Linked DNA regions of Homo sapiens: region 2 is linked to region 1. Evidence: fine-mapped expression QTL. Tissue or cell type: whole blood. Region 1 holds a variant in brackets; the other region holds the start of a gene. All regions are shown on one strand. Distances are from middle to middle.

Evidence for each region. PIP is the estimated chance that this variant, and not a neighbour inherited with it, causes the effect.
Region 2: it holds the start of LINC01215, and the variant in region 1 is fine-mapped to the expression of LINC01215 in whole blood (INTERVAL, PIP above 0.99).

The regions. Positions count from the first base shown.
Region 1 is chr3:108,212,141-108,220,251 of GRCh38, reverse strand. It overlaps IFT57 (intraflagellar transport 57), which reads left to right. Exons shown (of 11, transcript NM_018010.4): 2 at 680-842; 3 at 1,599-1,717; 4 at 6,231-6,321. Among named protein-coding and RNA genes, the nearest start is that of IFT57, 6.2 kb to the left of the region's middle. The variant C/A (reference allele first, on the strand shown) is at 4,589.
Region 2 is chr3:108,120,019-108,128,129 of GRCh38, reverse strand. It overlaps LINC01215 (long intergenic non-protein coding RNA 1215), which reads right to left and starts at 3,066. Exons shown (of 2, transcript NR_110030.1): 1 at 2,988-3,066. It overlaps LOC105374031 (a long non-coding RNA gene), which reads right to left. Exons shown (of 8, transcript XR_007095997.1): 6 at 7,687-7,786; 7 at 7,024-7,270; 8 at 4,984-6,633. RefSeq lists enhancers at 2,054-2,153, 2,654-2,733, 2,954-3,003, 3,284-3,423, 3,494-3,543 and 2 more.

The DNA of each region.
Region 1 (8,111 bases):
AGACTAGGGGATTAAGCAAGAGCCCACAGATGTTTGACTGGTGATGTGACATTCACAGGTTCTTAATCCTGACTACACCTTATAAACATGTAGAAATCTTTTGAAATATACCCCATACTGGGCCTACTTTCACTGAAGTTCTGATTTAATTCATTCATGAGGGAAGAAGCAATGTTTGGTCAAGTACCAGTATTTTTATTAGCTCCTCAGGTGATTGAATATGCAGCCAACATAGAAACAAATGTTCACCATAGGTGATAGGTTAGAAACAGTAAAAATGCATAATGAGTAATCGTTGAGGTCTTTTTTAAACTCTGAGGTTCTTCCAGATTACCATTTTCATTCATAAGGTACTTACATATTATTACTGACACTTAAATCATTTTGGCAAAAATTCTACATGCTCTGTGCTCTAACATGCACTACATTTCCTGGGTGTAAGGTCTTTGATCTAATATTTTGGGTACAGTAGTAATTGCCCTAATCCTGCTGATTTAAAAACTTCAATGTGAGTGCTGTGGATTACTGGAAACTTCAAAGGGTGAATTATCGAGGTCTTTTGATGGCCATTTGGGGGGAAGAAAGATTGTTGGACAATTGTGAATTCGGCCCTATTAGTTATTATAGACTTATTTGCATTATTTCACATCCGCCCCCATTCCTCCTTGTTTTGAAACAGACACTATTTTGCACTGCCTACCAACCCTGGCGAACAGTTCTACATGTTTTGTACTCTTGCTGCTTGGTTGATTAATAAAGCGGGACGTCCCTTTGAGCAGCCTCAAGAATATGATGACCCTAATGCAACAATATCTAACATACTATCCGAGCTTCGGTCATTTGTAAGTGTAAACGACCCTTCTTTTTCCTTGTTCTCAAGTTATGAATTTTAATACTGGTAATTTAATAACAAATGCTAGCCATTTAGATGACTCCTCTGTAAATATGAATTTATTTTTAGGTAAAACCTCCTTAAAATAGTTTACATTATAATGTTAATGTCACTTCTGAAAATGTTCAGTATATACTCTTTATTAGTCCAAAGTAATATTTTTTTAAAAAAATCTTGATATATCTGAGAGGTAAATTTTGGGGTGGTTAATTCTTGATCTAAAAAATGATAATTAAAAAAAAATCCTACAAAGCCAAAACACTTCATATTCTGAAAGGGAACTTGTACTTAAGACCATGACAGCAGTTGTACTTTTTCATTTCTGACTTTTCCTGGGCAGGCAGTAAGATATTTTTGGCACAAATGTTATTAATTTTTGACAAGTGAATCACTCTGTCCTTAAACATAGTTGTTTAAATAGTTTTACTGGTTTCTTTTCACTCTAATAAGATCAATAATTTGTTCTGCTGCTATGATGTTATTGCTTTTTAATTTGATACTTTTAACAATAAAAGTCTTTGAGTATTTTTATGTATCAATGGGTTACAAAGACTTGAAATGGATTTGTATGAAGCAGTGTAATTACAGTTATTGTAAATCATTTGAAAGAAAAGTGATACATCCATTCAGCAGTTCTTTGCTTAAAATATTTGACATTTGGAGTATAACTAACAAATAATACCCTGTTTTTTCTTTTGTTTTTCAGGGAAGAACTGCAGATTTTCCTCCTTCAAAATTAAAGTCAGGTTATGGAGAACATGTATGCTATGTTCTTGATTGCTTCGCTGAAGAAGCATTGAAATATATTGGTTTCACCTGGAAAAGGTAAAAATTACCCACCCTGATGATAGTAATTTTATGGGCATAGCATTTGCCTCTGAGGGTACAGAGCTGTTCAATTGAACATAAAAGAATTATTCTTTTTGACTATTCTAAATTGAAAATGCCACAGATAATTAAGAAAAGCCAGTATAGACAAAATTAGAATGTCTCACGTCTTCAAAACTAATTCTGAAGTAATGTGTTACATATTATTATGCCGTTTTCCTGTTCAAATATGTAATTATTAAAGGTTTAACTGTGACTACATATCTTTGTAAATACTGGACTTTTTTTTTAAAGTCTCTTGTACATATGTTCACACACACAAACATAGTATATACACAGAGGGAACTGATAGCTACAGATTTAAGGAAAAATGGAAATTAATACAGTACTTTAAGTGGGATTTTCTCCTTTGCTAGTAGTTACTGGGCAAGAATAATACTGAAGAAACTACCTGACACTCTCCTAGACATTGTTCATTGCTTTTGTGTCCAACCTGACAGTGCTTTATTTCTATTATTATATTATATTTATCCTATGGTATAAAATTGTTCTTTACTATTCTGACATTCTTGCTAGAAATCATGAAATCTTCACAAGTACTCTGTTAGCATAATGCTTGGTGTATCTTAGATGTTTAATAGATATTGAGCATATAGATGAAATAGAACATTTGGAAACTCAATTTATAGAGATTATAATTAGAAAACATAAATTTTATGCTTTGCAGTTTGGGATTACTAATAGGTTAGAATGTAGAAGGCACTATTCAGGTAAAATGCGAGTAAGCAGTGTTTTTTTTTTTTTAATTAGAACTAACTTCGGTAGAAAGATTATATACACACACACACATATATATATATTATTCCCTGTTAATAACATTTTAATGTATATTCAATTATATTCTTTTAGATATAATCTCCCTATTAAGTTTAATAACTTCCTTGAATTAGGTTATCATTGGGATGAGCCATATGAAATTACTCATATTCATCTATTTTTAAACTAAAAAATGGCAATTTCATATGCTTCAATCCAAACATTATTATTTAGTACAATATAAAGAATGGCTACATGGTCCATAATACTTTATTAAATTTCAAGAGAAGATAAGTTATGAGATGTGCTGCTGTATTTAGCATTTTAAAAAACTGCTAAATTAATAGACTAATATATTCTAAATTCACCAGAAGCTATGGTGTAATATCTCAACCACTATTCTATTTTGCACTTCCTTTGTTTCTCAACACATCTTATTCCTGGCCTCTGTATTGTAAGTTGGATAATTTATTTTTTAGTTTTAATTGGCACATAACTGCAAATTTTGGAGTACAATGTGATGTTTCGATACATGTGTACAATATACAATGATCAAGTTAGTGAAATTAACATATTCATCATTTCAAACGTTTATCATTTTATTGTGGCAAGAAAATTCCAAATCTCTATGAGCTATTTTCAAATATATATTATTGTTAATTAATATATAATATTGTGAACTGTAGTCACCCTGCTGTGCATTGAACACTAGAACTTATTCCTCCTAACTGTAACTTTGTACTCACCCACTTTGACCAACTTCTCCCTATTCTCCCTTCCCCCTACCCTTCCCATCCTATGGTAACCACTATTATACTCTCTACTTCTATGATATTTGTCTTTCTGTGCCTGGCTTATTTCACTTGACATAGTGTCCTCCATGCTTATACAGGTTGCTACAAATGACAGAATTGCATTCTCTTTTATGGTTGAATGGTATTCCACTGTGAAAATATACCACATTTTCTATTCAACCTTTGATGGATACTTAGGCAGATTCCGTATCTTGAGTATTGTGAATAGTGCTGCAATAAACATGGGAGTGCAGATATCTCTAACATACCGATTACATTTCTTTTGGATATATCATCAGTAGTGGGATTGTTGGATAATAGAGTAGTGCTATTTTTAGTTTTTTGAGGCACCTCCATAGTGTTCGCTATAGTGTCTGTACTAATAATTTACATACCTACCAATAGTGTTCAAGGGTTACCCCTTCTCCATATCCTCAGCAGCCTTTGTTATTTTGGGGGGCGAGGGGTTGGGTAATAGCCATTCTAACTGGGGTGAGATGATATCGTGGTTTTGATTTGCGTTTCCCTGATGATTAGTGATGTCAAGCATTTTTGCATATATCTGTTGGCCGTTTCTATGTATTTTTTGAGAAATGTCTATTAAGATCTTTTGCTCATTTTAAAAATTAGACTAGTTTTTTTGTTGTTGTTTTGCTATTGAGTTGCTTGAATTTCTTATACATACTGGATGTTAAGTTCTTGTCAGATGGGTAGTTTGCAAATATTTTCTCCCATTCTGTGGGTTGTCTCTTCACTCTTTTGATTGTTTCCTTAAGTTTGATGTAATCGCATTTGTTTATTTTTGCTTTTGTTGCCTGTGCTTTTGAGGTCTTATCCAAAAAATTCTTGCCCAGACCAATGTCATGAAGTGTTTTCTTCCACATTTCCTCTAGTAGTTTCAGTTTCAGATTGTATATTTAAGTCTTTAATCCATTTTGAGTTGGTTTTTATAAGTGGTTAGAGGTAAGGGTCTAGTTTCATTCTTTTGCATGTGGATATCCAGTTTCCCCAGTACTATTTATTTTTCTTTTTTTGTTTTTTAGCACCATTTATTGAAGAGACTGTGACTTGGATAACTTATAAGGACTATGTTTAAATGAGGAATAAAAGGAGGGAGCTGAAAAGTAGTCAACATTAGAGAATATGTCAGCTCTGTAACATGTAAATGAGATAGACGTTACATATAGATGAATTTTTTATATATCTAAATGTCAAAATGAATCCTAGAAGAACATTGCCTTTGAGATATTTTCGAATT[C/A]TAATTAATGAAAAATTAGGAAATTTATTATTTAAGATGATTGATTTAGTTCATAGTATTTTGCATATTAGTAAATGTTGATTTTTGTATTTTTTTAACATGATTGAGGCATGGGTTTTCGTTTTTAAGACAGGGTCTCACTCTGTCGCCCAGGCTGGAGTGAACCTCTGCCTGCCGGGCTCAAGCGATCCTCCCACCTCAGCCTCCCGCATAGCTGGGACTACAGGTGCACACCACCACTCCCAGCTAATTTTTTATTTTTTTTGTCAAGACAGGGTTTCACCATGTTGCCCAGGCTGGTCTCAAACTCCTGGTCTCAGACAGTCCACCTGCCTTGGCCTCCCAAAGTGCTGGGATTATAGATGTGAGCCATCACACCCAGCCAGGTACAAGTTTTTAATACAAGTTTTCTCTCTAGCTTTGTTACTGGATTAAAAAAAGGAAAAAAAATATGTTTTCATAAATAAGCCCAAATACATTTAAGTACTTTTAATATAGGAAATGTGTCATTAATCTTGATGAATAAATGATTTTTTTCAAAGTTTAATGTTAGGATCACTAATTAGATTTTGGAAATAAGAAGAAAGCTGGACTCCTTCTTATTACCTATGTTAAAATAAACTTCAGATTGATCAAAGATGTAAATATGAAAAGTAAAACTATAGAAGTATTAAAAGACCAGAGGAGTATAGAGGTTGTGGTATGACAGAAAGCCTCTAATATATGATGTTAAAGCTAGGGTCTGTGCAGGAAAAGGTTACCAACTCTATCTAAGAAGAACTATAACAATCTTGAATAGCCAAGATTATAAGTAATACACTAGGGGAACAATTTTTGAGAGGTTAGGCAAAACATTAATTTTCTTAATATACAAAAAGCCAAAAAGTAAATGGTATAAATAGACATTTCACCTAAAAAGAAGTGCAAATAAGCAATTAAAATATGACAAGATATTCAATCACTTTCATGCTAAAGAAATGCAGTTAAAACAAGAATGAGATTTTTTTTCACTTGGTTGATTGGCTAAAATTAAAGTTTGTATTATATATCATATTGGTGAATATATGGAGATGGAGTTACTCTCCTTCAGTATTGTTTGGAGTCTAAATTAGGGTAACATTTTGGAAGCCAATTTTGGCAGTATATAGCAAAACAATACTGTACAAAGTTGTTTACCCTGCCATTTCACTTGAACAAATTTATTCTAAATGGTATGTGTAATGATAAATGTACAAAGATGATCTTTGCAATATTGTCCAGCAAAATAATTAGAAACCTCTATGTTCAGTCATAGGCTGCCAATTACATTAATTATGGTATTGATTGTTCAATGAAATACAGTGCTTGTATGTAAAAAATAATGAGAAATACATATGTATTTAAATATGGTGTATTAGTGAGAAGCATTAAGTTGGATAACACCATGCATAGTATCATCTCATTTTTTATAAATTTGGAGATAAACACTTTTGCTTTTTACATAGAAAGTTTTAGGAAAAATACATGAAACATTTAACAGTGATTATGGAAGCGGAATGAAAAAGGACAAAACCTGGCATAGAGGACATGATATTTGCATTATGATTTTTTTGTCTTACTAAATATTAAAATTATCACCTCATGTTTAATCTTATTATTTTAGGCCAATATACCCAGTAGAAGAATTAGAAGAAGAAAGCGTTGCAGAAGATGATGCAGAATTAACATTAAATAAAGTGGATGAAGAATTTGTGGTATGTGTGTAGCTGAACTTTCTGTTCATTTTCACCTTTCGGCCACTTCCCATTCTCTTAATTTCCCCCAGACTTCCATTATCTGGAATATATTTTATTTCATTGTTTCTAAAGAAGAAAAGCTTTTAAATACAGTGCTGAGTATCATCATTTAGACCTTTGGTTAAGTTAATGTTTGTATTCTCTAATGATTGAGGTCTGAATTTTAGCAGAGGTTCTTGAACTGTTCAGGGAAATATATACCACTAGTTATATGAGTAAATACTTTATTAACCATTCATGATGTTAAATAGACTGTGACTAATAAAGAATTTAAAACAGAACAAAAGAATTTAGGATTAATAAATTCTGCTTTATACGCATACCATTCATTTCTAAGGAATTCCTTTATTCATCTACAATTAGGATGAGTAGGAATTTTTTAATGCTTTTAAATGATCAACATTATTTAAGTTGTTTGGCAGAATCTACAACTTTTTACATGTTTTACATGCCATCCATAGTGTGCAGCTAAAGATGACAGAGACAAAATAACTTTTTCTCAAGATAATTCTCAGAACTAGAATTAGATTGACCCTGGTATTTTAGGAAGTGTGCTTGTGATTTGAAGCAGAAATGGTTGGGGGAAAAAACAAACTTTATAGTATACAGCTGACCCTTGAGCAATGTGGGGGTTATGGGCATCGGCCCCCACACAGTTGAATATCCACATATAACTCTGGACTCCCAAAAACTTTACTAATAGCCTACTGTTGACTTGAAGCCTTACCAATAACATAAAGAGTTAACACATATTTTGTCTATGTATTATATACTGTATTCTTACACTAAAAGTAAGCTAGAGAAAAGAAAATGTTACTAAGCAAGCCATAAGGGAGAGAAAACATACATACTATTAAGTGGAAGTAGATAATCATAAAAGTATCTTCCCTGTCTTCATATTGAGTAGCCTAAGGAAGAAGAGCAAGAGGAAGGGTTGGTCTTGTTGTCTCAGGGGTGGCAGAAATGAAAGAAAATTTGTATTTAAGTGGACCCATGCAGTTCAAACCCGTGTTGTTCAAGGGTCAACTATATTTTGCTGTCATAAACCAATTAAAATTTTTAGGTGATTTTTAAAATCAATAGATAATTAGTTTAAAATAAGTAAGTAATTGAAGTTTGGCATTGAGGTTAGTATAGTATAGTATTTAAGTTAGTATATGCATAATTTTAATAGCAAATGCTGAAAAATAACTATTAAATAGATTAGATGCTATCTGAATAGAGTATTATATAGCCATTTGTATTAGTCCATTTTGTGTTGCTGTAAAGGAATACTTGAGGCGCTGGGTAAGTTATAAAGAAAAGAAGTTTATTTTGGCTCACAGTTTTGCAGACCATACAAGAAGTGTAGCACCAGCATCTGCTTCTGGTGAGGGCCTCAGGAAGCTTACAATCATGGTAAGACAAAGTGGGAGCAGGCACCTCACATGGCCAGAGAAGAAGCAGAGGAGGGGAGAAGGACCAGAGACAGAGGAGGGGACATATATCCAAACTATATCACCATTGAAAATTGTTGGGTGGGCATGCTGGCTTATACCTGTAATCCCAGCTCTTCGGGAGGCGGTGGGAGGATTGCTTCAGGCCAGGAGTTTGAGACTAACCTGGGCAATAGAGTGAGTCCTCATCTCTACCAAAAGGAAAAAAGAAAAAAATGCCAGGCATGGTGATTGCTTCAGGCCAGGAATTTGAGACCAACCTGGGCATTATAGTGAGTCCTCATCTCTACCAAAAAAGAAAAAAATGCCAGG
Region 2 (8,111 bases), 92 kb after region 1:
TGTCACTATTATTTTATAATTTCAAGCAATTTTACATATCAATTACCAGCTGATTAATTAACATTCCTTTATAAATATTTATTAAGCCTTCACCATGTAACTGGTACTGGTCTAGGAACTGAGGAAGGCAAAGTTCCTGCTCTAGTGAATCTCAGATTTTCTAAATTAATCAAGTAAATATGAGTTTCATTTAAAATAAACTAAGCAACAGGTCGCTAACATAGGTGGTCATATCTTTGCTTGGTTCGATTCTAATAGCAGCTTGGATTCGTCCCAGGATTTGTCTTTGTTGATCTTTCCTGCTGAACTACCTTTTCTTTCTTTCGGTTTCACCATCCTTGATGCTGTGAATCCTGCAGGGAGCTAACAGGCTGGTGTGATAGCTTCTTACTACACCTACAGCTCAGCGAGTCCCGCCACTTGCTTTATACACTTTGATTTTTCTCTTTGCTTCTCTCTCCTATCTGACCCCCCTTTTCCTGAACACTTGCTGCCCCCTATTTCTCTTTTCTTCACTTTTGCTTTACTTCTTTTGCTGCCCCATTCCGTGGGAGACCCTATCTCTGTTTCTTCAGGTGGCCCTGTGGGTGTGAAAGAACAAACTTCTGGGCAGGCATACACCAGTGGTACACCAGCGGTACACAGGAAGACACCCCTCCCAGGAAACAATACCTCTGCCTCTGACACTTCCGGGAGCCTTGTAGCCACAGGAATCAACACATGTCTCTGCAACACTTCAAATTAACTCAGGCCTCAACAAGGCAGAGAGGGGTGTAGCCATACAGGCATGATCAGGGCCAGCTTATCACCATTCACTGGGAGACTGGCTGGAATGTGGATGTGCCGAGTGAAAAGTCAAATGTCTGCCTAATAGCAGAGCCCTCCACTCTGAAACACAAATGGCCCACTACATTCCTCACTCATAATTTTTAAAAATTTTTTAAAAAAATCTTTTACCCTAATGTCCAGTAGGCTATTGAACACTAGCTATCAATTTTTTGCCCTATGCCCTACAGTTAAAAATAAATGGCCAGGCAGGGTGGCTCACACCTGTAATCCCAGCACTTTGGGAGGCTGAGGCGGGCAGATCACAAGGTCAGGAGATCGAGACCATCCTGGCCAACATGGTGAAACCCCGTCTCTACTAAAAATACAAAAATTAGCTGGGTATGGTGGCATGCCTGTAGTTCCAGCTACTTAGGAGGCTGAGGCAGGAGAATTGCTTGAACCCGGGAGACAGGTTGCAGTGAGCTGAGATCATGCCACTGCACTCCAGCCTGGGTGACAGAACGAGACTCCATCACAAAATAAACAAATAAATAAATGTGTGTGCATAAATATGTACACACATATACATATGTATATTTTATATACACAAGTATTTGTATATCTAAAACCAGTTTCACAAAACAGTACCCTCATTACATGCATAGCTCAAATTTTTTAATTTCTTTATAATCTAGTTATCTTAATAACTTTTTAAAATGCTGGTTTTGACCTAGAGATTTTTAACCTTGTGTGTGTGTGTATATGTGTTTGTGTGTGTGTGTGTATCTGTTTGTGTGTATGTGTGTGTGTGTATGCATGTGTGCACGTGCCATTTCTACCCCATGTGATGAAGCCTATGGATCCTTTCTTGTAGTGTTTTTAAATGCATAAAGCAAAACTCTTAGGCTTACAAAGGAAATCAATGATATTGAAATACAATTCTATCCTTGGGCCTCTTGTGGGGAAAGGGCAGTGTCCACAGACCCAGGTTAAGAATCTCTGCATGGGTAAATTGATTTCCCAGCTGACTGCTGAGCCACAACCTGCAGTTTGGAAAATAAGGCTGTACAAAGCCTCAGAACATTTTGTTGTAGTTAAGTATTTCAGATGCTTATTATCCTGTCACGGTTTTAACCCTCTTTTCCCTCCCTTTCCCCATGCTCCCTCTATCCAGTCACCCACACCCCACCACATGCACATGCATGTGTACTCACTTACATGCATGCACATATATGTTGCCACATATCCACATACACATAGGCACACACATGCACAGGCACACACATGCAGATCTTAGGTCACATATCTGGAATGAGATGAGGCACTAGACCACTGGGTCCAGCCCCTCCTGTGACCCCAGTCCCACTCCCTGACTGCCTCTGTGTCACAGCTCCTCTGGCTCCTGCCTCAGAACTACTCTAGTGGCTCATTATCTCTGCAGGGCAGCGCTCACCATCACGACTTTCTTGTTTTCTTTCACAGCATTGTGAGCCAATAGGTGCATTCTGCCTCAGAATAGTGGTGGAGACTGGTGGTGGCACAGCCCAGAGCTCTTGACGTTTATTTTCTCAGGCTTCAGTGAACCTTCTGTGGCAGGTGTTTCCTTTTGATAGGCGGCAGTTCCTCCCTGGGTCACTCCAGCCTGCAGCTGAAGCCCTCACTTAGCTCACTGTGGCTGTACTGAACACACCACCTCCCAACATGGAGCAGCCTAGCCAGGGGGTGCGGGAAGGAAAGATGGTTGCTGCCACAAATGAATGACTCAGCTACCTTCTCCAATGGTTTGATATTGACGTTTCCTCCTGTCATAGCAAAAATGCCCAGGTGAACTGTTTTCTCCATCGCATGTAGAAAGATGATGGTTGTCTGAACTGGTTCCAGGTAATGGACAGTGGTAAGCGCTCCCTTCTCTTATAGTATGTTATGGATTGAAGTGTGTCTCCCCACAAAAAGATATTACTGGAGTCCTAACCCTGAATATTTCAGAATGTGACCTTATTTGGAGATAGTGTGTTTACTGAGGTAATCAAATTTAAATGAGGTCATTACAGTCTCTAATCCAATAAGACTAGTGTCTTATAACAGAAACGAACGCTTACAGAGGGAAGACAATGTAAAGAGACACATGGAGAAGATGGCTGTATTTCCATTCTCATGCTGCTATAAGGACATACCCAAGACTGGGTAATTTATAAAGGCAAGAGGTTTAATTAACTCACAGTTCAGCATGGCTGGGGAGGCCTCAGGAAACTTAGAATCACGGCAGAAGGGGAAGCAAACACGTCCTTCTTCAAGTGGTGGCAGGAAGAGAACTGAGTGAGTAAAATGAGGAAAGTCCCCTTATCAGATCTCCTGAGAACTCACTCACTTTCACGAGAACAGCGTGAAGGTAACTGCCCCCATGATTCAATTACCTCCCCCGGGTCCCTTCCATGACACGTGGAGATTATGGGAACTACAATTCAAGATGGGGTTTGGGTGAGGACACAGCCAAACCATATCAACAGCCATCTGTAAGCCAAGGAGAGAGGCCTGGAACAGATACTTCCCTCGCAGCTCCCAGAAGGAGCCAATCCTGCCGACACCTTGATTTCAGACTTCTGGCCTCCAGATTGTGAGACAAGAACAGCAACTCGGCCTGTGTTCTCTGCCCTTGAGGTTGAAACAGGGAGCAGAAGGTTTTTTTTCCCCTCTGTGTTGCAGCATGGAGTTCTGAATGACAGATGAGGGGTTGATCACCCTCCACACCCATGCTAAGCCTTATGGCTTCACGGGGTTCAGGCTTCCTGTGTTCAGTCTTCTGTGTTGCCAGAAAAATTTGCATACTCCCATGGACAAAGAAAGCAGCAGAGGAGAAAGAAGAGCTTTCATTCACTTCCTCTTTGGGGTGAGAGCAAGTCTGAATGCTCTAGAATTGATTCTATTAGAAAAACTCTCTGACCCCAAATATGAATATTTTCACCACACCCAATACTCATAATTTTAAAAATAGATCTTTTGAGTTTCATCCTGACTAGTAACCTAAAGATCACTGACTTCTGATTTATTTTTTTATCATGCTCTACAGTTAGAAATGCAAACATATAGACTAGAGAGGGCCACAGAGGTGTTTGATCCCATCACTTCATGTAGGTAGGAAGATGTTGAACCCCTGAGAGGGGTCGGAACTTGTCCAAGATCACACAGCAGGCAGAGTACATCAGGACCTCAAACCCATATCTTCTGCCCTCTCCTCCTAAGGTCTCCATCACTAACACCCTGTCACGGTCCATCCTGCTAAGGAAGTCTCTACTATAAAATCCCATACCTTGAAAATTAATTGTTTTTCCACTCACACGTTACCACCCTTCCCTCCTGCAAACATTTGGAAGTTGAAAGGTCGCACAGCCTTCATGAAATTAACCAGAAGAATTGAAAGGAAGCTGATGACAAAAGTACTTCAAAATCTGTTTTTCATGAAAACAGCTTTTTCTTTTCCCCCTCAGATCAAACTGAATTTTTCTTTTTATTTTTGCGGTATTCTTCTAATTGTGCCTTTTTAAATGTGTTTGAAATAGTTCTTTGTTTCTGTAGATTAATCACCTTTCAATGCTCTCCTTTTTTAAAAAAAACAAAATTTTAAAACTTTTAAATAAAATTTTCATTTGTTAACTCTCAGTCCTTCTCCTTTATCATAATTCACTTTTCCTATCATGTTCAGTGAATTATACAATTAATTACTTTTTCAGCTTGCAAATGGTTTGCTATTGTATATGTCATGTTTTCTTTTGGATGAGAAAACACTTATTTCACACAATAGTGCCATTGCTTTTATTATTCTTCCTGTCACTGAGAGGGGGGAAAGACCAAGAACCAAACAATAAGACTTTTATTTACAGCTACTGGAAAGCTGTCCTGAAGGTCGCTACAAGCCTCTGCCATTGTGTGCTTCCATCTTGGACATGCCATCCGAGATGCCTAGAATGGCAGGGGTCTTCCAGAGCATGGAGTCTTATCTCGTTTCACAGTTGAAGAAACTGAGGCACATAGGTCCTCCCAGGGCCATGCAGCTACCTAATGCCAGATCCGGAACTAAACTTCAGGTTCTTGACTCCCAACCCACTGTCTTTTCCACTGCCCAGAAAATCCCAGGAATTCTTTCCAAGCTCCCTGAATTCATCCCAAGCTAGTGTTGCAATCCATTTGCTTTTATCTCAGCAGCGTTGGAAAAAAGGGGCTGTCATGAATCCTGGCTCAATAATAGGAGTTTACATAATAATTTGCATAATCTGGTTGATTAGTTTCATGTTGCGCCAGCTCCAGCCTTCAAGTCATCTTCATAAGTTCTTTCGTGTATCAGAATCCAGAAGCTGTCAGGAGGAATCTGCACATGGGCTTGTGGGGGTAAGAGGATGGGATCTGGTGTCAGACCTGGGCAAGTTATTAACCTCCCTCTGCCTCCACTTTCCCTGATATAAAATAAGGATACTGAGAGCATCTCTGTCATGTTGCCTTTTTTCAGGATTACATGAAAAAAAAGTAGGCTTAATATTCATAACAACTCAATAAATATTTATTATTCTTGCTACCAATGAGGACATACTATTTGATAGGGGTTTAATAAAAGTTTATAAGGAAATATAAAACCGTAATTAGTGCAACTGCAACAGTTGTGGTGTGGTGCAGTAGAAATCATTCTGGGCTATGAATTGGGATATCTGAGCCCCAGATTCAACTTCACCATGAATGAGCTATGTGGCCAGCAAGGAGCTGTCTCTCCTCTCTCGGTCAGTTTCTTAACCAACAAATCTAATCCTAATCTCCAAATGGGAGAGAGGAACTCCCTGAAAAGTACAATTTAACTGACTCACAACCTGTCAAAGCTACCCAATCTTACAGCAGAAGAAGGGGAACCCCTGCCAAGAATTATTGTCCCCTGCTCAATGAGGAAGGTGATTCCTTGGTCCGCCTCCATGAGGAAGATAATTGTTGGGCCATCACTCTGAAGCATCCTGGCCCTAAAGCAGGAATAATTCCACCCTTGCCTTCATGGGAGCCACCTGCCTGAGCTCAAGCCGGAGAAAGGAGCAGATGAACAATGAATGTCACAGCAATTCGTTTTGGCAATTAGGCAGGCAATTAGTTCTGCAGCATGTAGAATGGGAGGAGAAAGTAAATCAGCACTGAGAGGTGACAGGGAAATATGATTAGGACATCAGGTGCCAGTGACACCCAGGTGGAAAGTCATGCATTAGGGTCCCAGCCTCCCCTTCCCCACCACCGCCACGACAAAGGAAGGAGCTTTCCAGAGACCCTGGAAAACAACTGCTTTAATAGAAGGGGCGTTCCACCCTCTGTTCTAGCCTCTTTCTCAAGGACATCTCATGCCTCCAGTGTTCACTCCAGGCTATGATCTTGCTGATTTCTCACCAAAAATTCTGCCCAGTGTCAAATAACTGAAGCAGTAGTTTCCTGGAGATTGTCTTCTCTTAGCTGCAAATACATTTGTTTTGTTTTTATAGCTTTGGTAGCTCCTTTCTAAAGACAAATTAATTTCACATTTTTCTTGGGGGTAGGTAGGAGGCAGATACTAAATCAGTGTATGATATTGTGGGGCATGGGGTTGTGCTTTGAAATCAAGGACCTGGGCTTAGATTCCAGCTCCACTACTTACCTAGGCTCCTACCTTTAGTTTCCTCAGCTCCAAAAATGGGCATAATAACAGGATTTCCAGGTAAAATACATGACATTTCCATATCTCTTGTCCAAGGACAAATTAATTTCACACTTTTGGGAGTGTATGTTTTATTTAAAAATCATTTGTTTTGATCTGAAATTCAGATATAACTGGATATCCTCTATTTTTATTTGCTACATCTGGGAACCCTAGAATAAAATAATAATACTTACATCAGAAAGTTAATGAGAAGATTAAATCAAGAACCATATTAAAAACCCCTAATGGTGTGCCTAATTGGGAAGTTGAGGAACAATTAAAGTTTCTTTCTTCTTGCTTTCCTCTGCCATTCTCATCTGAAAGGTTAGACATCTTCTGTACAGCCTGGAAGTATAGAGCAATGCCAGTAGCAGTGGACTGGTTTTGACTCAAGACAAGGAAAGACACTTCTAATGGGTTGACTGAGGCAAGGGGTCCAAGCCCAGGCCCAGATGCCTCCTGAAGAGAAGACTCAAGCATCAGAAGAGTGGCTGGACATGACATTTAAGGTCTCTTTCTACCTGAGTTTCTGAACTAGTATTTGGAGCTTCTTTTCTTACGATTAAGCACTGGGAACAGCTTCAGAGGACCCAGAAGTACAATTAGGAAGTGTGATGACACAGGGAGCACCCAGCGCAGCAGCAATTTGTCCAGAGCATTCACAGTGATTCTTAGGAAAAGTCAGGGATGGAATCCAGTGCTAGATTTCACACGTCGAGGTACTCTGCTGGTGTTCTGATGATCCTCCTCACCAAAGGCACCTTCAGGTTTTGTGAGGCATGAGGCTTATACAATTATGGGAGCCCTCTTTAAGAAGAAGAATGCAAAATTGCAAATACAAAATTAGGCATGAAAGCGAATATTTACTTAGAATGAGAAATTATATCATGACAAATTACAGGAGTGCTGGAGAATTAGTTCCTTTTCTTCTGAGATCCCTTTAAGCAATTTACCCAAAATGCTGACATAGAAATGTTTCCTGATTGTAACCCAGCTTCCTCTCTCCACCTGGAACTCTATCACTCTTAGCAACCCAGGCTCTCACAGGGGCCGTGCATGGGAAAGGACCTGTAACTCAGGTCCTTTATTTATTAAACTTTATTCATTTTATGATAGATCTTCTCTTGTAACCAAGTATTTTTGAAATATAATTTTATTCTTTTATTTTTAATTGATACATAATAATTATATATACATATGGGGTACAAGTGATATTTCCATACCTGTATACGATGTTTAATGATCAAATAAGTGTATTTAGCATATCCATCATCTCAAACATTTATCATTTGTGTTGAGAACATTCAAATTCCTCTCTTCTAGCTGCTTTGAAAAACACAATAAATTTTTATTAACGATAGTCATCCTACTGTGCAATGGAACACTAGAGCTTATCTAACTGTAACTATTCTTATTTTTTATTTTTTTGAGATGGGGTTTCAAAAATGTTTAAGCCTGTCACCCAGCCTGGAGTACAGTGTGTGATCATGGCTCACTGCAGCCTGGACCTTCCCAGGCTCGGGTGATCCTCCCACCTCAGCCACCTGAGTAGTTGGGACTACAGGCACTTGCCACCATGCTTGGCTAATTTTTTAAATTTTTGTACAGATGGGGTTTTGCTAGGTTGCCCAGGCTGGTCTCAAACTCC